Regions from separate parts of the Homo sapiens genome. Here region 1 is linked to region 2. Evidence: fine-mapped expression QTL. A gene starts in region 2. The other region holds a variant in brackets. All regions are shown on one strand. Distances are between the middles of the regions. Region 1 has its middle 18 kb from the start of CD27. Region 2 holds the start of CD27-AS1 (CD27 antisense RNA 1).

What was found. PIP is the estimated chance that this variant, and not a neighbour inherited with it, causes the effect.
Region 1: its variant is fine-mapped to the expression of CD27-AS1 in whole blood (TOPMed, PIP above 0.99).

What each region holds. Positions count from the first base shown.
Region 1 is chr12:6,420,533-6,433,056 of GRCh38, reverse strand. No RefSeq gene overlaps it. Among named protein-coding and RNA genes, the nearest start is that of CD27, 18 kb to the left of the region's middle. RefSeq lists enhancers at 5,840-6,079, 6,120-6,229, 9,541-9,590. The variant C/G (reference allele first, on the strand shown) is at 7,274.
Region 2 is chr12:6,446,999-6,454,998 of GRCh38, reverse strand. It overlaps CD27-AS1 (CD27 antisense RNA 1), which reads left to right and starts at 3,482. Exons shown (of 6, transcript NR_015382.2): 1 at 3,482-4,658; 2 at 6,262-6,359; 3 at 6,849-6,962; 4 at 7,912-8,000. It overlaps CD27 (CD27 molecule), which reads right to left. Exons shown (of 6, transcript NM_001242.5): 3 at 4,647-4,826; 4 at 4,369-4,458; 5 at 3,985-4,104; 6 at 3,286-3,731. The coding sequence ends at 3,607. TAPBPL (TAP binding protein like) reads right to left here and starts at 2,957. Exons shown (of 7, transcript NM_018009.5): 1 at 2,687-2,957; 2 at 1,702-1,932; 3 at 1,283-1,552. The coding sequence starts at 2,750. RefSeq lists enhancers at 2,658-3,257, 3,688-3,847, 3,938-4,147.

The DNA.
Region 1 (12,524 bases), 24 kb after region 2:
TACAAATTATATTTTAAAAATTGGAGGTGAAAATGAAAAAAAATGGAAAATTATAGAGAAGACTCAGGTTCCCTTTGATCAATCTCCTCCCCCAATCCCTGGTCCTCTCCCTACCTCCTTAGTGTAGGCACTGTTTTCAGATTATTGAGTATTCTTCCAGAACTTTCCTAGACAAAAAAGTTATGTGTGTTGTTGTGGGTGTTTTTTGTTTTTTGTTTTTGTTTTTGTTTTTTGACAGAGTCTCTGTTGCCAAGGCTGGAGTGCAGTGGCACATTCTCAGCTCACTGCAGTCTCCACCTCCTGGGTTCAAGTGATTCTCCTGCCTCAGCCACCCAAGCAGCTGGGACCACAGGTGTGCACACCCGGCTAATTTTTGTATTTTTAGTAGAGATGGGGTTTCACCATGTTGGCCAGGCTGGTCTTGAACTCCTGACCTCAATTGATCCAGCTGTCTCAGCCTCCCACAGTGCTGAGATTACAGGCATGAGCCACTGTGGTAGGCATATGTTTATGTTTTTAAAAATTATTTTCTTTCCTTCTTATTTTTTGAGGTGGAGTCTCGCTCTTGTTGTCCAGGCTGGAGTGCAATGGCATGATCTCGGCTCACTGCAACCTTCACCTCCTGGGTTCAAGCAATTCTCCCATCTCAGCCTCCCGAGTAGCTGAGATTATAGGCGCCCCCCACCACATCTGGCTAATTTTTATATTTTAGTAGACATAGGGTTTCACCATGTTGGTCAGGCTGGTCTTGAACTCCTGACCTCAGGTGATCCGCCCATCTCGGCCTCCTGAAGTGCTGGGATTATAGGCGTAAGCCACTATGCCCGGCCTGTTTGTTTGTTTGTTTGTTTTTGTTTTTGTTTTGAGACAGAGTCTCGCTCTGTCACCAGGTTGGAGTGCAATAGCATGATCTTGCCTCACCGCAACCTCCGCCTCCCAGGTTCAAGCGATTCTCCTGCATCAACCTCCCGAGTAGCTGGAATTACAGGTGCATGCCACCATGCCCAGCTAATTTTTGTATTTTTAGTAGAGATGGGGTTTTGCTATGTTGGCCAGGATGGTCTCGATCTCCTGACCTCGTGATCCACCTGCCTCAGCCTCCCAAAGTGCTGGGATTACAGGCGTGAGCCACCACGCCCGGCCAGCCTGTTTTAAAAAATTATTTTATTTTCTACTTAAAATGTTATTAAGCAATAATCAAATATTTCTTACTCTGATTTCTTGGCCCCACTCCTCCTGAGGATTCTCTGCTTGAATTTTTCAGAGCAAGGGCGACCCCTGTCTTAGGAGAGGTAGGAGAGTGCCTCATGGACAGCATCTGGTTGTTCCTTCTCCCTGGCAAGGGGCCTGCCTCTCTTTTTCATACCTGAGATGACCGACAGCAGTAACATCTGACTTTGTCTTTTCCTTTCTTATTTGGGGCATCGCAGGCTACCTATATTTGCTGAAGGAAATCTTACACAAAGCTGCGATAATTCTAGCACAGAGCAAGAAATAGAGCCTAAGGAACAAACCACCCATTTTCTCTCCACTCGGTAAAAAATTATCTCTGGGAAATGAAATAGCCCAAGTCTGGCAGTTCCATGTTCTTCTTCTTTTTGTGTTTTAGAGACAGCCTTGCTTACTCACCCAGGCTGGAGTGCAGTGGCACAATCATGGCTCACTGTAGCCTCGAATTCCTGGGCTCAAGAGATCTTTCTACCTCAGCCTCCAGAGTATCTAGGACCAGAGGTGCACACTACCACGCCTGACTGATTTTTAATTTTATGTAGAGACTGGGTCTCTTTATGTTTCTCAGGCTGGTCTCAAATTCCTGGCCTCAAGAAATCCTTCCACCCCAGCCTCTCAAAGTGCTGAGATTACAGGCATGAACCACTGCCCCTGGTCCATGTTCTTCTTATATTGCTTTTCTAAAGTACTTCTTTTTGCAGATAGAGAAAGGCTTGTTAACTGGCCTCATGACTCAGCCTGCCAGGCACAATTGTCCATCGGCCCCAGCACAGTTGTATTTTTGTGTTTGTTTTGTTCTTTCCATAAATGATATACAGTATGTATCCTACGATTTGCTTTTCGTGCTTTTAATCCAGTTATATGTCTTGGAGATCATTTCATTTTATACTTCTAGAACTACTCGTTTCGTTAAATAGAGAATGGATGTGCAGAGGCTTTTTAGCCATTCTCCTGGTTCCCGAATACTTAGGTTGTTCCCAACAATGCACTATCGTAAGTGGTGTTGCATAAACATCTCATACTTCGCTGTGCATGTGGGAGTGTCTCTCTAGAATAAGTGCGGGGCATCGGAATCGCTGAGTCACAGGGTGTGCACATTTTTCACTTTAACAGATGCTGGCGAGTTGCCCTCCAGAGTGGCCCTACCAATTCACACTCCCACCAGCAGTGGAATGATAGCACATATTTCCTCACGTCCTGCCAGGCTTTCGTATTAGCAAACTGTTTTTGAGCATCTCATTGGAGGAAAGTGCTGTCTCATTGTTTCAGTGTGCACTCTTCCCATTCCCGGGGAGGCTGAGCGTCTTTCCATGATCGCGCTGTTTGTGTTTCCTCTTTTGTGACCAAGGCCTTTTTACCCTTATGTCACCACCAGTGTTCTGAAGTCCACCCTTGGCTCTCCCCCACAGCAATCTTGTCCTCCAGACCCAACCTGCATTGCCTCTGCCAATCACAGGGGTGCCAAACATGGTATACACTTGCCATCTGCCCTGGGGGCTGAAAAAAGCCTCGTGGTGACAGGGGAGATCTCTGCTGTCCCTCCCTTACTAATGTCAGGGGACTTCAGACCTCCACAGAGGGTGTGTCCTTTACCTCACTTGTCACACGGCAGCTGGGACTTGCGTGACCCCTAAACTCCTTCTGCTTCAGCATTTGATGACCCCCCAAACTGCACTGACCTCCAGCCCAAACTGAAGGGATCCCTGGTGCCTGTTGACTTTTACTGAGATGAAATGAATCATTTTAATAATTTAAAAATGTACAATTCAGTGGCTAGACTTTTACTGAGATAAAATGAATCATTTTCATCATTTAAAAATGTGCAATTCAGTGCTTTTACTATATTCACAAAGATGTGCAAATATCACAGATACATTTCTATTTTTGAAAAAGTTATAACTACCCTAGTTGGTGTGAAGTGGTATCTTATTGTGGTTTTGATTTGTATTTCACTAAGACTAATGATGTTGAGAATCTTCTTATGTGCTCATCGCCATTTGTATATTTTCTTTGGAGAAATGTCTGTTCAAGTCCTTTGCCCGTGTTTAAATTAAATTATTTGTGTCTTTTGTTGCTGAGTTGCAAGAGTTTTTTTTTTTTTCTTTTTGATATTATGAATTCTAGACCTTACTAGATAAGTGATTTGAAAATATTTTCTCTGGCCCGGGGCGGGGGCTCACACCTGTAATTCCAGCACTTTGGGAGGCCGAGGCGGGCAGATCACGAGGTCAGGAGATCGAGACCATCCTGGCTAACACAGTGAAACCCCGTCTCTACTAAAAATTAAAAAAAAAAAAAAAAAAAATTTAGCCAGGCGTTGTGGCGGGCGCCTGTAGTCCCAGCTACTCGGGAGGCTGAGGCAGGAGCATGGTGTGGAACCCGGGAGGCAGAGTTTGCAGTGAGCCGAGATCGCACAACTGAACTCCAGCCTGGGCGATAGAGCGAGACTCCGTCTCAGAAAAAAAAAAAAAAAAATTTATCCCATACTGTGGGTTGTCTTTTTACCTTCTTAATAGTGCCCTTTGATGCATAAAAATTTCACATTTTGGGCCGGGCATGGTGGCTCATGCCTGTAATCCCAGCACTTTGGGAGGCCAAGGCGGGCGGATCACGAAGTCAGGAGATGGAGACCAGCCTGGCCAATATGCTGAAACCCCGTCTCTTAAAAATACAAAAAATTAGCCGGGCGTGGTGGCGGGCGCCTGTAGTCCCAGCTACTCGGGAGGCTGAGGCAGGAGAATGGCGTGAACCCAGGAGGCGGAGCTTGCAGTGAGCAGAGATCACGCCACTGCACTCCAGCCTGGGAGACAGAGCGAGACTCCGTCTCAAAAAAAAAAAAAAAAGTTTCACATTTTGATGAAGTCCAGTTTATCTACTGTTTCTTTTGTTGCCTGTGCTTTTGGCATCATATTTGAGAAACTGTTGCCGAATCCAAACTCATACAGATTTTCACTTATATTTCCCTCTAAGAGTTTTATAGTTTTAACTCTTAAATTTAGTTCTTTGATTTATTTTGAGTTAAATTTTTTATCTGGTTTTAGGTAGGGGTCCAACTTCATTCTTTTACTTGTGGATATGCAGTTGTCCTAGCACTGCTTCTTGAAAAGACTATTCTTTTCACACAGAATGGTCTTGGCACCCTTGCTGAAATTAATTGACAATAGATGTATGGGTTGATTTCTGGACTCTAAATTGTATTCCATTGATCTGTATGTCTGTCTTTAGGTCAATACCATGGTTTTGATTACTGTAGCTTTATAGTAAGTTTCGAAATTGGGACTTCAACTTCGTTCTTCTTTTTCAAAATTATTTTGGCTACTCTGTGTCCCTTGCATTTGCATGTGAATTTTAAGATCAGCTTGTCCATTTATGCAAAAAAGAAGGCAGTTAGAATTTCGATGGGGATTGCATAGAGTCTGTAGATGAAATTGGGAAATATTGTTACCTTCAGTCCATGAACACAGATGTCTTTCCATTTATTTAGGATTTCTTTAATGTCTTTCAACAATGTTTTCTAGTTTTCAGTGTATGAGTCTTGCACTTTCTTTGTTAAATGTATACCAAGTTTTTTTTTTTTTTTCTCGAGACAGAGTCTCACTCTGTTGTCCAGGCTGGAGTGCAGCGGCCCAATCTCAGCTCACTGCAGCCTCTGCTTCCCAGGTTCAAGCGATTCTGCAGCCTCAGCCTCCCGAGTAGCTGGGATTATAGGTGCCTGCCACCACGCCTGGCTAATTTTTTGTATTTTTAGTAGAGACAGGGTTTTATCATGTCGGCCAGTCTGGTCTCGAACTCTTGACCTCAGGTGATCCGCCTGCCTTGGCCTCCCAAAATGTGGGAATTACAGATGTGAGCCACCGCACCTGGCCAATGTATGCCTAAGTATTTATTCTTTTTGATGCTATTGTAAATTGAGTTGTTTTTCCTAATTTCATTTTTTTTTTTTTTTGAGATGGAGTTTCGCTCTTGTTGCCCAGGCTGGAGTGCAATGGCGCAGTCTCGGCTCATTGCAATCTCCACCTCCTGGGTTCAAGTGATTCTCCTGCCTCAGCCTCCTGAATAGCTGGGATTACAGGCATGCGCCACACATGCCCAGCTAATTTTGTGTTTTTAGTAGAGACTGGGTTTTACCATCATGGTTAGGCTGGTCTCAAACTCCTGACCTCAGGTGATCCCGCCTGCCTCGGCCTCCCAAAGTGCTAGGATTACAAGCATGAGCCACTGTGCCCGGCCCCTAATTTCAATTTCATTTTCTTTCTTTCTTTTTTTCTTCTTCTTTTTTTTTTTTTAGACAGTGTCTCGCTCTGTCACCCAGACTGAGTGGGGAGTGCAGTGGTGCAACCTCGGCTCACTGCAGCCTGCACTTCCCGGGTTCAAGTGATCCTCCCACTTCAGCCTCCCGAGTAGCTGGGACTACAGGTGCATGCCATCATGCCTGTCTACTTTTTGTATTTTTTTGAAGACATGTGGTTTTGCCATGTTGCCCAGGCTGGTCTGGAACTCCTGGGCTCAAGTGATCCACCCGCCTTGGACTCTCAAAATGATTACAGGTGTGAGCCACTGCGCCCAGCCCCGAATTTCATTTTCAAGTTGCTCTTTGCCCATGTAGCAGTTGACATTTGAAGAAGGCAGTTGTTTTCTCCAGAGTTGGAAGGTGGCACCTTGAGGTGTAGGCGTGTTGCTATGACACCCTGTGGGCCGTTGCTGGGGCTCTCTTGTGACTTTTCTGAAGTCACGGATGGAGAGTTTGACTCTGTGACACAAAGGGAAACATGTCTGACTAATCTTTCCCACACTCCCTTTGCCTCTGATGGCTCCCTCGGCTAGGAGAGGAGAGGAAGAGAGTGGGTTGGTGGGGCCTCACCCTTTATTACAGGTGCTTCCTCTGACCCTTCTCTTCTGCAGGATTTTTGGGGCAGCTACTGAAGGGACAGGCACTCCCAAAGGGCAAGGGCTGTGGCAGCCTTCTCTTTTACCCATAAGTTGGCCAGAATTGATGCTGTCTACTTGTTTTTTTTGTTTGTTTGTTTTGTTTTGTTTTTTGGGAGATGGAGCCTCCCTCTGTCACCCAGGCTGGAGTTCTCTCACCCAGGCTGGAGTGCAGTGGCGCGATCTTGGCTCACTGCAACTTCTGCCTCAGCCTTGGGTTCGGGTTCAAACAATTCTCATGCCTCAGCCTCCCAAGTAGCTGGGACCCCAGGCACACACCATCATCCCTGCTTAATTGTTTTGTATTTTTAGTAGAGATGGGGTTTCGCCGTGTTGGCCAGGCTGGTCTTGAACTCCTGGTCTCAAGTTATCTGCCCACCTCGGTCTTTCATTGTGCTAGGATTACAGGTGTGAGCCACCGCACCCGGCCTGATGCTCCCTACTTTGATGTGCATAGAGGAATGTTGCAGGCCACAGGCATAGGCAGGGTCCTGGTGGCTGGTGATGTCAGAGAAGCCTGGGGGGGAAGTCCAAGGATCAATCAGCTGGTGAAAATCTGAAGGAGCGGAGGATGATTCGAGTAAATCTGTGCTGCTTGGCCTGCGTCCAAGGCCGTCTCTCTGCTCAGTCACTTGCTGGCTGCCCAGTTGCTCAGGCTCCGTGGGTTTGTTTCCACTGTCACATGGGGATGCAGATGCTGGCCTCGGAGGGCGGGTGTGAGCAGCCATGTTTGGTAACTCGGGTGAATGCCCTGCTAGGACTTGATGCAGAAGAGGTGCCAGTCAGTGTTCACTGGAGTATGACTTGATCACCAGCAACTTCCTTCTTGACTGGGATAGGGCAACATGAGAGCTGAGAGTTCCTTAAGTGGGGCCGTGCTCAGAATGGAAGGGAAAGAGTGAAGAAATCTACTAGGAAGAGGTGTATGGGAGGCGTATGCGACAAATCTCACCTTTATGAGAGCTCAGCTAGTCAGTGGGAGCTTTAGGTTGAACGGTGTGGGTGCTTCTAGGGCTGAGGAGACCCCATCATATTTTCACGCCAAAGGAATGGGGTGGGCCGGATGGGGAGAGCTGCAAGAAGCAGGATGTTGCAAGTTTGTGTGGTTTGTTTGTTT[C/G]TTTTGTTTTGTGAGACAGGGTCTGGCTCTGTTGCCCAGGCTAGAGTGTAGTGGTGTGATCACGGCTCACTGTAGCCTCGAACTCCTCGCCTCAAGCAGTCCTCCCACCTCAGCCTCCCGAGTAGCTGGAACTACAGGCGCACGCCATGAAGCCCAGCTAGTTTTTGCATTTTTACTAGGGACAGGGTTTCACCAGGTTGTCCAGGCTGGTCTTGAACTCCTGGGCTCAAAGCGATCTGCCCGCCTCAGTCTTCCAAAGTGCTAGGATTACAGGCATGAGCCACCATGCCCGGCAATTATACATTTTAAATATTAATATAATAATGAGGCTAATCTATAATACTTCTATGTCAAATTGTTTAAAATTTTTTTAATTTTTTTTTCTGTAGTTTCATGCATTTCCTATTTAAGTATTAATATATGTCAGATTCTTTTAAGCATTACAAAAACTTTAAGTACCAAATGCATGCAGTGGTTAAAACCTGTTTGAAACTTAGCATGAGTTTGATTTGCTTCATCACTTTTGATTTTTATCAGTTAAGGTTTGACCAGAGAGTCAAAACCACTATGAGTGTTATGGAATAAGGAACTTATTTTAGAGATTAGACCTTAATCAATCATGGCAGCTGGGGAAGGAGTCTTTGGAGGCCTCCGTATCTGTGGTGGACCTGAGGTCACTATGGGTCAGTTGGGAGAAGCACTGGATGTGAAGTGGGGGCAGGGCAAAGGCCATCCGGAGCCTGCGTCTGTGCCTCACCACCACCCACCCCGATGGTATGGGTGTCTGCAGAAGGACCTAGCACTCCTTGCCACGGAGTTGCACTTGTGTGGCCAAGAATTAGAGAAGCTGAAGGAGGCGATCTGACGGGAGCTGGAAGAGCTGCCAGTCTGGCTGCCATCCGTGCAGACAAGGTGAGCCAGCAGATGACTGTCACCCCATGCTGGCCTCAGAGCACGACGGCCGCTCCTATTCTGTTTTCCTACCTCTCAAATCTTACATTTCTCTTGTGGCCAACCCTCACCCAGAACCATACAGGGATTAATTTCCAAGAAATATGGTTTCGTCTTAGCTAAGTTGAGAGGGTAAAAGCCATCATAAAGATTGATTCCAAACCTTCTTGGGGTTAAAAGAACACTCGTCCCCAAGGGGAACGGTTTTACTCAAGTGGGCAGTGTATGACCGTGATCTGTGATTACCGTCTCAGGAAGGCTAACCTTATTTATTTGCCAGATTTGAGGCTAGGAAGCCAGACTTGGGCCTGCGTACATCTATATAGTTCTCAGTTTAGTACAATGTTCCCTTAAATGTTTCAAACTACATTATAAATTTAATAGTTCTGAGTTTGTCTAAGTCTATACCCTTTTTAAAAATTAAAAAAATTTTTTCGCATTGACAACTAATCAAAAGAAGAGTCCATATGCTTCTGATGGGTTTAGATTTGCAACCTGCCTCCTGGGTCCAAATCGTACCCCCACTAGAGTATCTGGAAGTCTGGAATCTCCACCCTCAAGCTGCAGCCCTTCTTGGTGCCTCTTCCTTTTGGCCTGGCTACTGGATCCTTTCCTTATTCTTTCTGTCCGAGTAGGTCACCACTCCATAGCCATATGCATACCTCTGCAGGGCTCTGCTCACAACCCTGAAGTCATGCTCATGCCTGTGAGCACTGGACAGGATCCTGCACGGCCTCAGGAGGAACTCCAGGGAGTGGAGAACAGAAGCGCATGCCACGTTCACGCAGGGTCAGGATCTTACCCATCCAGGGCAGAGATTTTCCCCAGGGAGGAGGGATTACAGGTGCATATGCTGGCACCTGTAATCCCAGCTACTCAGGGTCACCTCTACGGGAGGGACTGAAGCCAGCAAGAACCATACACAAACTCTGTCCTAAAAGGAGCTGGTGAAGTCCCCTGGGGAAGGGGTAGAAGGGCCTTGGGGCCAGTTGCATAACTGGGACCTTCAAGCTGTGGCTCCCTGCCCAAGGAGCCTCTGCTATCCAGTCATGCGCTTGATTCCAATGGAGGCAGGAAGCGCGTCGTCCCATCTGTCTGGGCTTTGGGTGCCCTCTTGTGGCAGAATAGTGATTTCGCTCTTCACACTGTCTCACGTGGCCCTCTCAGGAGCCCAATTAGGGCTTCAAGGCTGTTATTTTGAAGATACGTTTATCGCAGCACTGTTTACAAGAGCAGGGATATGGAATCAACCTAGGGGCCCACCAATGGATGATTGTATAAAGAAAATGTGGCATATTTATACCATGGAATACTACTCAGCCATTAAAAAGAATGAAATTACATCTTTTGCAGCAATGTGGATGGAACCCTTAGAGGCCATTACCTTAAGTGAAATAATTCAGAGACAGAGTCAAATACTGCATGTTCTCATTTATAAGTGGGAGCTAAATAATGTGTGCACATGGACACAGAGAGTGCAATAGTAGACATTGGAGATTTGGAAAGGTGGGAGGGTGGGAGGTGGGTGAGGGATGAGAAATTTCCCAATGGGTACAATGTACACTATTCGGATCGTGGTTATACTAAAAGCCCAGACTCCACCACTACTCAATATATCCATGTAACAAAACTGCACTGTACTCCCTACATCTATAAAAAGAAAACAAAATGGGATTCTAACAGAAAAAAAAGGGACATAAGGGCAGAGGTGCCAGGCGTCGGGTATCCTCCCAGGGCTTCTCTTGTGTCAGCACAGCAGGCTGGGTTTCAGCAAGTTCAAAGAATTTGAGGAACCCCCTAAGGGAGGGCCACTGGTGGGGGCAGAGGGGTGATCCCAAGTACTCCTATCTGTGACTTGAAGAATCTATCTTTAACATAACCTAAAAGAATATACCAAAGGCTGGGCGTGGTGGCTCACGCCTGTAATCCCAATACTTTGGGAGGCTGAGGCTGGCGGATCACGAGGTCAAGAGATTGAGACCATCCTAGCCAACATGGTGAAACCCCATCTTTACTAAAAATACAAAAATTAGCTGGGCATGGTGGCAAGTGCCTATAGTCCCAGCTACTCGGGAGGCTGAGGCAGGAGAATCGCTTGAACCCGGAAGGCAGAGGTTGCAGTGAGCCGAGATTGCAGCACTGCACTCCAGCTTGGGTGATAGAGCGAGACTCCATCTCAAATAAAAAAAAAAAGAAAGAAAGAAAAAAAGAATGCACCAAAGTATGACCTGATCTTGTTTTCTTTTTAAAATTAAAATAGGGGCCGGGTGCGGTGGCTCACACCTGTAATCCCAGCACTTTGGGAGGCCGAGGCATGCGGATCACGAGGTCAGGAGATCGAGACCATCCTGGTCAACATGGTGAAACCTGTCTCTACTAAAAATACAAAAATTAGCTGGATGCGTTGGCACGTGCCTGTAATCCCAGCTACTTGGCAGGCTGAGGCAGGAGAATCGCTTAAACCCGGGAGGCAGAGGTTGCAGTGAGCTGAGATCATGGCATTGCACTCCAGCATGGGCAACAGAGCAAGAATCTGTCTCAAAATAAATAAATAAATAAATAAATAAAATTAAAAAATTAAAATAGGGACAGAGTCTTGCTATGTTGCCCATGCTGGTTCCAACTCCCCTGGCCTCAAGCAATCTTCCCACTTCAGCCTCCCAAAGTTCTAGGGTTACATGAGTGAGCCACCACGCCTGGTTATGATCTGAACATAAAAGCTCCTGTGGCTGGGTGCGGTGGCTCACGCCTGTATTCCCAGCACTTTGGGAGGCCAAGGTGAGTGGATTACCTGAGGTCAGGAGTTCAAGACCAGTCTGGCCAACATGGTGAAATCTTGTCTCTATTAAAAATTAGCTGGGCGTGGTGGCGGGCGCCTATAGTCCCAGCTACTCGGGAGGCTGAGGCAGGAGAATGGTGTGAACCCGGGAGGCGGAGTTTGCAGTGAGCCAAGATCACGCCACTGCACTCCAGCCTGAGCGACAGAGCGAGACTCCGTCTCAAAAAAAAAAAAAAAAAAAAAAAAAAAAAAAAAAATTAGCCAGGTGTAGTGGCAGGCGCCTGTGATTCCAGCTACTCGGGAGGCTGAGACAGGAGAATCGCTTGAACCTGGGAGGCAGAGGTTGCAGTGAGTCAAGATCGCGCCACCGCACTCCAGCCTGGGTGACAGAGTAAGACTCCATCTCAAAAAAAAGAAAGAAAGAAAGAAAGAAAGAAGGAAGGAAGGAAGGAAGGAGGGAAGGAAAATGCACATGCAGGCTGGGTGTGGTGGCTCACACCTGTAATCCCAGCACTTTGGGAGGCTGAGGCAGGCGGATCACTTGAGGCCATGAGTTCGAGACCAGCCTGGCCAACATGGCAAAAACCCATCTCTACTAAAAGTACAAAAATAAGCCGGGCATGGTGGCAAGCACCTGTAATCCCAGATACTGGGGAGGCTGAGGCAGGAGAATCGCTTGAACCCAGGAGGCAGAGGTTGCGGTGAGCAGAGATCACACCACTGCACTCCAGCCTGGGCGACAGAGCAAGACTCCATCTCAAACAAACAAACAAACAAACAACAACAACAAAAAAAATAGTGCACGCATGCATACGATATTGTGAATAGAATTTTAAGGAGTTTGTGAACTTTGGGGATGCATGAGCCCATATGGTTTGTAAAAGTTCCACTTCTAGATCTCTGGTCCTATTAGTTTCTCAGGGGCTTGAAGCCCTCAAACAGAATTGCTACTCTCTGAGGAGGTTGACAATGTCCACTTAAGGACAGCCTCTCTGGAGAGGAAGAAAGGACACAGGGTAAAATTTCTTCTCATCAGAGAAGTAACGTTAGCGTTAGCCTCAAAGATGCGTAAAGAGTTGCCTTGTGTCAAGAAACAGACGTTTCTTTTTTGAAAATATCCGAGAAAGACAAATAACAGAGATGGGTAATTTACATAATTTCAAGACAGAGATTGTCTCCAAATTGCCTAATTTGAGGAATCTGAATGAGATGAAAGACAAGACACTCTTTGGAAGGATTTCCTAAAGCAATTCTTCTTAAACTCTATTTTTGGCTGATCTCAGATGGTCTCTGAAAGTTTCCAGAGGCAAGGCAAAACATTTAAGAGCTTCCAAAAACTCATACCAAACTGCTTCTAGAAGAAAACTCAAACAAATTGATTCATGTTCTTTCAAGACACACCTTTAAAGGGATTTTCTTTTGGTGGGTATTGCTTATTTACTTAACTAATATTTACTTAATGCATACTGGAAAAGAGTATTTTAGAGTTGGCAGGAACTTCAGGCATCTTGTTCTGATTCC
Region 2 (8,000 bases):
TTCTAATGGGTCAGGATAGATTTAGGTTGGACCACAGAGAGGTTAGAGTGTTCTGGGGTTTTCCAAGGATAGGACGGTTGCCCCTAATTTTCTCTGGACTTGGCTGTTTCTTCTTGGAGACTCAAAGAAGCAGGGCACAGAGTATTGGATTAATGGGCTCTGGGGAACCCTGTCATCATGTTCTCAATTTCTTGTGCCCTCGAGGATGTGCTGAGCTGGAGAGGGCAAGTACTGGGTTTACTAATAAGATCATGAACAAATGATGCATCCCTGAGCTTTACCCCTGAAGCACCAGAGCAGCCTAGCATTTCACTGGGAGAAAACCGGGTTTTGGCTCGATAAGACTACAGTGGACAGCACCCATGTACAGAATAGCATCATGTGTCTTATTTCCTCATGGCAGCCCAGTGAGATGAGAACGATCTCCATTTTGGAAATAACACAGGTTGTCTGTGTGCCTGGGGACGTTCAGGTAGGGGCTGCGAAGCATTCTCTTGTGGACTCAGGGTTTTTGTTGTTGTTGTTGTTTTTGAGACGGTGTCTCACTCAGCTGCCCAGGCTGGAGTGCAGTGGCGCAATCTCGGCTCACTGCAACCACCGTCTCTCAGGTTCAAGTGATTCTCCCGTCTCAGTCTCCTGAGTAGCTGGGATTACAGGCACCTGCCATCATGCCCGGCTAATTTCTGTATTTTAGTAGAGAGGGGGTTTCACCATGTTGGCCAGGCTGGTCTTGAACTCCTGACCTCAGGTGATCCACCTGCCTTGGCCTCCCAAAGTGCTGGGATTACAGGCATGGGCCTTCGCACCTGGCCTGACTCAGGGGTTTTTAGGAAGAAAGGACCAAGGCCTAGGGGTGCCCTGAGGTGACCAGTGTGGATGGAGGTGGATTTGTTCCCTTTCTTCTTCTGTGCCCCATATCTTACCACTTTAGAAAAGCAAAACTTTCTGTGACTTGCTTTTCTTTTCTTTTCTTTTTTTTTTTTGAGATGGAGTTTCGCTCTTGTTGCCCAGGCTGAAGTGCCATGGTGTGATCTCGGCTCACCGCAACCTCTGCCTTCCGGGTTCAAGCGATTCTCCTGCCTCAGCCTCCCTCGTAGCTGGGATTACAGGCACCCGCCACCATGCCCGGCTAATTTTGGTATTAGTAGAGACGGGGTTTCACCGTGTTGACCAGGCTGATCTCAAACTCCTGACCTCAGGTGATCCACCGACCTCGGTATCCCAAAATTCTGGAATTACAGGCGTGAGCCACCACACCTGGCCTTGCTTTTCATTTTCTTACCTGCAGTTCGCACAGTCCCCTGGGGGCTCAGTGGCAAGTTCAGCGTCGGGTGCCAGAGCGCCTCATTCTTGGTGACCCTGGGAGTCTTCATCACCAAGGAGATGCTAGGTCCCCCTCCAGAGACCTGCATGTTGGCCATGAACCAAGCTGCTGTCTTAACAGTGGTCTCTGTCATCTGGAGAAAGTAGCGGGAGATCTCACAGGTCACCTCCTTCCCACTGCAGTCAGCATGGAGCAAGGCCTCGGCCTGGGGAATCTGGACCAGGTCCACTGGGGAGAAGCAGGGCACACACAGAGGGCAAATTAGCGTGAGAACACCAGGGCCAACGGGAGGCAGTATGTGTGGCTGTAATCGGGACCTGGGCTGTCCTGGTGGAGGGAGCCCGGGAGGACCAAGGACACAGGTGGAAGGCTTTTACCTGAGGCCTCAAAGATAATAGGTGGGTCATCTTGGGCCAGTGTGCCCCCTTGGAAATCGGTGAAGTCCTCCAGGGAGCCATCGTCCAGCACTGGCACCTGCTTCAGCACAAGGGAGGCCCTTGCCCTGTCCTCACTGCTGGCGAGAGCTCCACGGTGCGCACCGTCCTTCGCCAGGAAGCAGTCTAGGACCACGTCCACTGCCCGCCACTGCCCCTCTGCTGGGTGGGGCTCTGCAGACAAAGGCTGGGGTGAGCACCGCCTTCCCCAGAAAGCTACTCCACACTTGCTTCCTGCCCCCGCCCTCAAGCTGTGGAGTCATCAAAGGGTAAAAGTTGCCATCCAAGATCCTAGCTGTTTCTGTGTCCCTCTATTCTCCCGTCATCCCCAAACCAGCTTTCTGGAGAGCACCTGCTAGTCCAGGCAAATACTTCTTGGTGAGAGTTAAAGTCCTGGATTTGCCTTGCTCAGAGGAGTTTATGCTTGCATTTCCAACTGTTGAATAAAAGACTATCTTTTCAGTCAAAGGAATTCTCAGAAAACAAGCAAGTGCCACCGCAGAGAGAGGAGACTGGACAGTTACTGTTGCTGGGGCACTGACAGCCTGCACTGCTTTCTCCCATTTCGGGTAGCCTTCCCCTCCCCCGCCTTCAAGGTCACCTTCCAAGTGATTTCCTCACCTGGGGAGTCCTTTCCTCTTCTGAAGTGTCAGCTCCCAGGCCAGTGCCCTCTCTGTAGGACAGTGGCTCCTGACCACAGCCACAGAGGCAGCCCCTCTTTAGCATTTTCCCTGTGGAGTCCCCACCCTCCCTCCACACACACTATTGGTTCCTTCCTTTGCCAGCCGCTGAGCCTTTCCCCTGTTGGGCTTAGAAGGCGATGGGGTCATCCCCGGCCCCTTTGCTCTTCTGGAATCTCGGGGAGGGTGGCACCCTGGGGCTTCAGTAGCTCTTCTCCCAGCCAGCTCTCCCCGACTCCCAGACTCACTGGTTTCTGCTGCTCCAGATAGAGCCAGGCAGAGCAGCAGGCACCAGCCCTCCTGTGTGCCCATGGAGGCTGCTCTCGAGTTCCCTCCTTGCCCACCGCCCTTCTCCACAGTCCTACGCTGCTTGCGAGGCCCGGCGGAAGAAGGGGGCTCTCCAAGCACACCTGGCAGCCTGCAGCCTTTAGGTTTCTTCCCTGTTCCCTCTGCTGCCGACTTTTCTTTCACTTTCACTTAGAGCAAGATGGCAGCCCGCGTCCCTGTGTGAAGCCGTCTGCAGCAGCTGCCAGAGCCCTGCTTGCTGTTTCCTTTCTCACCACCCACCTCACCCGGAAATCCCCTGGTGATTTCAAGACCTGACCTCTGCACCCTTTTGCTCCCCACCTGTCCCAAAAAAGTGGAGCTATAACTGTGGGAAAAGGGGATCTGAAGTCAGACACAGGATCCACAGTAGCCTGGGGACCTTTCTCACCCCCGCCCTTAAGCAGGCCCCAACATAACCGGCTGAGAAACCTCCTCTGCCAGATCCTGACCTGAGCCAGGAGGCGGCCAGGAAACTGGATTTTGGGACTGGGATTTCAGAGAGGAAGCTGGAGAGCTGCAGGGTGGTCATCTGTCACTTTATTTTGCCCGTCTTGTAGCATGTGGGTCTTTCGCAGCAGGAAGTGTGTTTTACAACCAGAGCCCCCGCCCTCCTGCAGCGCAGGCGCAGCTGGCTGGGCTCCTGCTTCCCACTCTCCACCTCATCCATATTTGTCCTCGTCCCTGCCAGTCTCGAAAAGGCACTCTGTCACGTGTACACAGGAAAGGGCCCTGACAAGAGGATGGGACTGCAGTTGTGGCTGCCAGGTCTCACTCTCCCTTGGATGGTCGGCGGGGTGGGGGTGGAGGCCAGGGCTGTAGTGCAGCTCCCGCAGGTGCTGGCTCAGGGGGAGCAGGCAGGCTCCGGTTTTCGGTAATCCTCCTGGATGGGGATGGTGCTGCCCTCCTCCTCCCTGGGGCAGCTGTAATGACAAGGCTCTGCAGGCTCCACAGGACTTTCTCCTTTGTCTGCAGAAGGAGATCCGATGAGTCTTGGCCAGCAGTGGGGGCAGGGGGAGACGGGAGAAGGAGATGGGTAGAGGCGGGTGCGCTTGGGGGAGGGGTGTCAGGAGCACGCCAGCTAAGGGGAGAGAAGGGGTAGGACCAAGGCTGGTGAAGTGGAGCTGGTGGGTTTCAGTGAGATTCCAGGCGTGGGCAGTGGGGTTGAGCCAGTGGGGTGTGGTGCAGGGGCAGGACCGGAGGCCTGTGTTCTGTCTCTTACTTGATCTATATTTCCTTCGTTGATGGAGGAACAGGGCCCCGGCCAGGGTGAAAACAAGGAACATTCCAGAGAAGATCACAAGGATGCGAATAAAATCGGAGCTGCACAGGGATCTTTGGGCTGTAATAGGAGGGGACACACAGGGGTTAGGGGAGGGTCTAGCCCTTGGCTCCCTCAGCCCAGCCCTCCTGTCACCTTGCCTCTCCCCTTTCCCCCACCTTATTCTATCCCACCCGCCACCGTTGGCCAACTCCTCTCCTAAACAGTGGACTCTGCTTTTTCCCCTCCTCTTATCCCTAATCCTAGGAGCTTTCTGTCTGGCTTCCCTCCTGGCCCCTCGTGTATGCATTCTCTCTAGCGGTGGGGATTAAGGAGAAAACTCACGTGGCCAGTGGGTAGAGAGAGTCCGGGCAGGCAGCTGCCTGAAGTCAGCCAGAGTCTGCATGTGCCCAGCTGTCCTGGCCTCCAGCATCTCTGGAAAAACAGAGACAGAATGAGTAGCAGCAGGGGACCCCATAGGGCACATCTGAAGGCCTGAGAGGTGCTGGATGGGATGGGAAGGCAGAAACAGGCTGACCTTATCTAGGGGTAGGAGTGGGGAGTACTGGTTGGGGTATCACCGCTACCCCACGTGATGGCACAGAGAGTTGCCTGGAACTTACCACTGACATAAGGTAAGTGGGTGGGCTGAGGGTGTGGGCTCAGGGCCTGAGACGACCGAGCGGTCAGCGAAGGGTTTGGAAGAGGATCACACTCGGTGCACTCCTTGTCCCTGCACTGCCAGCCATTGCGACAGGCACACTCAGCATTGGCAGTGATGGTGCAGTTGCGAACGAGAAGACCTGGGGGAAGAGAGGCCCAGGGAGCATAGGACACTCAGACCTGTGGAGACCTTCAAGGTCCACTTGCTTCATCCCCCAACCCCCATCCCAGGCCCACCTCTAGGGACGTGCTTCCCTTTCCATTCCCACCCCTGCAAAGGCCTGCCCTTTGCTCACGGTCCCCCAATGCCTTTGCCATTATTATTGTTATTAAAGAAGAAAGTTGGACCTTTCAGAAGGAAGATTCATGGGTTCAGACATAGAAACCATGAAAAGTAGAAAGAGCTTATATGACTTTCTCTTGTACTCCCTGATACATTTTTTATTTTTTATTTATTTTTTTGAGATGGAGTCTCGCTCTTGTTGCCGAGGCTGGAGTGCAATGGCGTGACCTTGGCTCGTTGCAACCTCTGCCTCCCGGGTTCAAGCAATTCTCCTGCCTCAGCCTCCCAAGTAGCTGGGATTACAGGTGTGTGCCACCACACCCGGCTAATTTTTTGTATTTTTAGTAGAGACGGGGTTTTACTGTATTGGCCAGGCTGGTATTAAACTCCTGACCTCAGGTGATGCACCAGCCTCAGCCTCCCAAAGTGTTGGGATTACAGGCGTGAGCCACTGTGCTCGGCCCCAATACTTTAATAACTTTTAATTAAAGTATAATATACGTACAGAGAGGCACGCATGATTGTAAAGCTTAAGAATTTGTACAAATTTGGCTCACAGGCATAACCAGCAGCAGATCAACAAATATAAAATAGCCGGGTGAGGCAGGGAATTGCTTGAACCCGGGAGGTGGAAGTTGCAGTGAGCCGAGATCACGCCACTGCACTCCAGCCTGGGCAACAGAGTGAAACTCCGTCTCAAAAAAAAAAAAAAAAGAAAAGAAAGAAAGAAAATAGCCAGGTGCAGTGGCTTACGCCTGTAATCCCAGCACTTTGGGAGGTTGAGGTGGGTGGATTGCTTGAGCTCAGGAGTTTGAGACCAGCCTGGCCAACATGGTGAAACCCCGTCTCTACAAAAAATACAAAAATTAGCTGGGTGTGGTGGTGCACACCTGTAGGCCCAAGCTACTGGGGAGGCTGAGGTGGGAGGATCGCTTGAGCCCGGGAGGTGGAGGTTACAGTGAGCTGAGATCATGATACTGCGCTCCAGCCTGGGTGACAGAGTGAGATCCTGTCTCAAACACCACCAACAAAAAACAAAACAAAGTATATTAGGGATTCCCAGGGGCTGGGGCTGGGGCTGGGGTTGGTTGGGGGGAAGAAATGGGGAGTCATTGCTAAGGGGTACAAGTTTCTCTGGGGTAACGAAAATGTTATAGAATTAGATAGTGTTGATGGCTGCACAACCTGTGGATACACTAAAATAAATAAATAATAAATAGTTACTTGATTACAGTTACTTAGCCTTTATTTTGTTTGTTTGTTTTTTGACAGAGTCTTGCTTTGTCGCCCAGGTTGGAGTGCAGTGGCACGATCTCGGCTCAGTGCAACCTCCGCCTCCTGAGTTCAAGTGATTCTCCTGCCTCAGCCTCCCTAGTAGCTGGGATTACAGGTGTGTGCCACCACACCTGGCTAATTTTTTGTATTTTTAGTAGAGACGGGGTTTCACCGTGTTAGCCAGGATGGTCTCAATCTCCTGACCTCGTGATCCGCCCGCCTTGGCCTCCCAAAGTGCTGGGATTACAGGCGTGAGAATTTGCCTTTAAAATATACATTTTGCTCAAGTGTAGAGGTCCGATGCTGGGTGGCTGGGTGTTAATTATCCTGGGGGCGGGTGTGGTAGGGCACTAGCTGGGCTGGGCTGGGCTCGCTGGCGGCTGGTTTGAGAGGAGGGTGATTCAGAGGAAGGCAGTGACACCCAGATGTGGGACAGGCTGCAAGAAAGCCTGGTGGGCCTTAGGGCAGACACTTGTGGGGACCCGGGGAGCCCTAGGTGCCCTGACAGGTGGAAGAGGGGTGCAGAAAGGGAGGATGTCAAAGAGAGAATGTCAAAGGTCATAACCAAACCTAACAATTTTCTTCTACTTATGCCTTTTGTCAGGACAAGGAGAGGGACAAATTCCTTCTTGGCATCCTTATGGCCCTGTGACCTGCTAATGAATGCTGACTCTGAGTTGCTACTAGAATTTGGTTTCCTTGTGGCTTCCCAGGAATTGTGAGCCATGTTGGATAAGGACCTGCAAGGGAAGAATGAGGAAGCCTGGGACAGTGCAGGAGGGGAGAGCACTGGTGGTAGAGAGGAGTGATGACAAGGGTCTCCGCCAAAAGGGAAATGGAGGGGTTAAAGAAGCTGCTGGGGAGGGTTAAAAACAATGTGTTCTCACTCGTAGGTGGGAATTGAACAATGAGAACACTTGGACACAGGAAGGGGAACATCACACACTGGGGCCTGTCGTGGGGTGTGGGGAGGGAGGAGGGATAGCATTAGGAGATATACCTAATGTAAATGATGAGTTAATGGGTGCAGCACACCAACATGGCACATGTATACCTATGTAACAAACCTGCACATTGTGTACATGTACCCTAGAACTTAAAGTATAATTAAAAAACAAAACAAAACAAAACAAAAACAATGAGGTGCTATTGTTTTAGTGGTGAGTATCCGGAGACCTGGGAGTTCTATTTACCAGGTATAACCTGGGCTCAAAATTCCAGGCTGACTTCAGGCATGTCCTCATCTCATAGATGCCAGCACTAAGGCCCAGAGAGGGCCGAGCTCATTCAGCCCACCCATCTTCTCACCCCTGACTGCATTTCCCGGGGGTCCTTCTGCAGCCAGGTGCTGCTGTGGTACTTTGGGATCTATTGGCTGAGCTCCCAGAGAAGGGTCATGGATTGGGCTAGTTTGGAACAAGTGAAGGGACTGAAGATGGGCTCAGTATGGGGCGAAGACCTTCAGGAAGGGTCTGCAGAGTGAGTAGGGGGGTTTTGACTAGGAAAAGTTCCAACCCTGCCGGGGCCGCTGTCAAGAGAAAAGCATCTATTACAGTTACATTTTTAAGTTAAGTAGACTGAAGAATATTTCTTGTGTATTAAAGACGTTCCTTTTTGGTTGATTTGCAATGGAAAAGCTTTTGTTTTCTTTTTTTTTTTGGAAACAGGGTCTCACTCTGCTCACTCTGTCTCCCAAGCTGGAGTGCAGTGGTACAGTCACGGCTCACTGCAGCCTCCACTTCCTGGACTCAAGTGA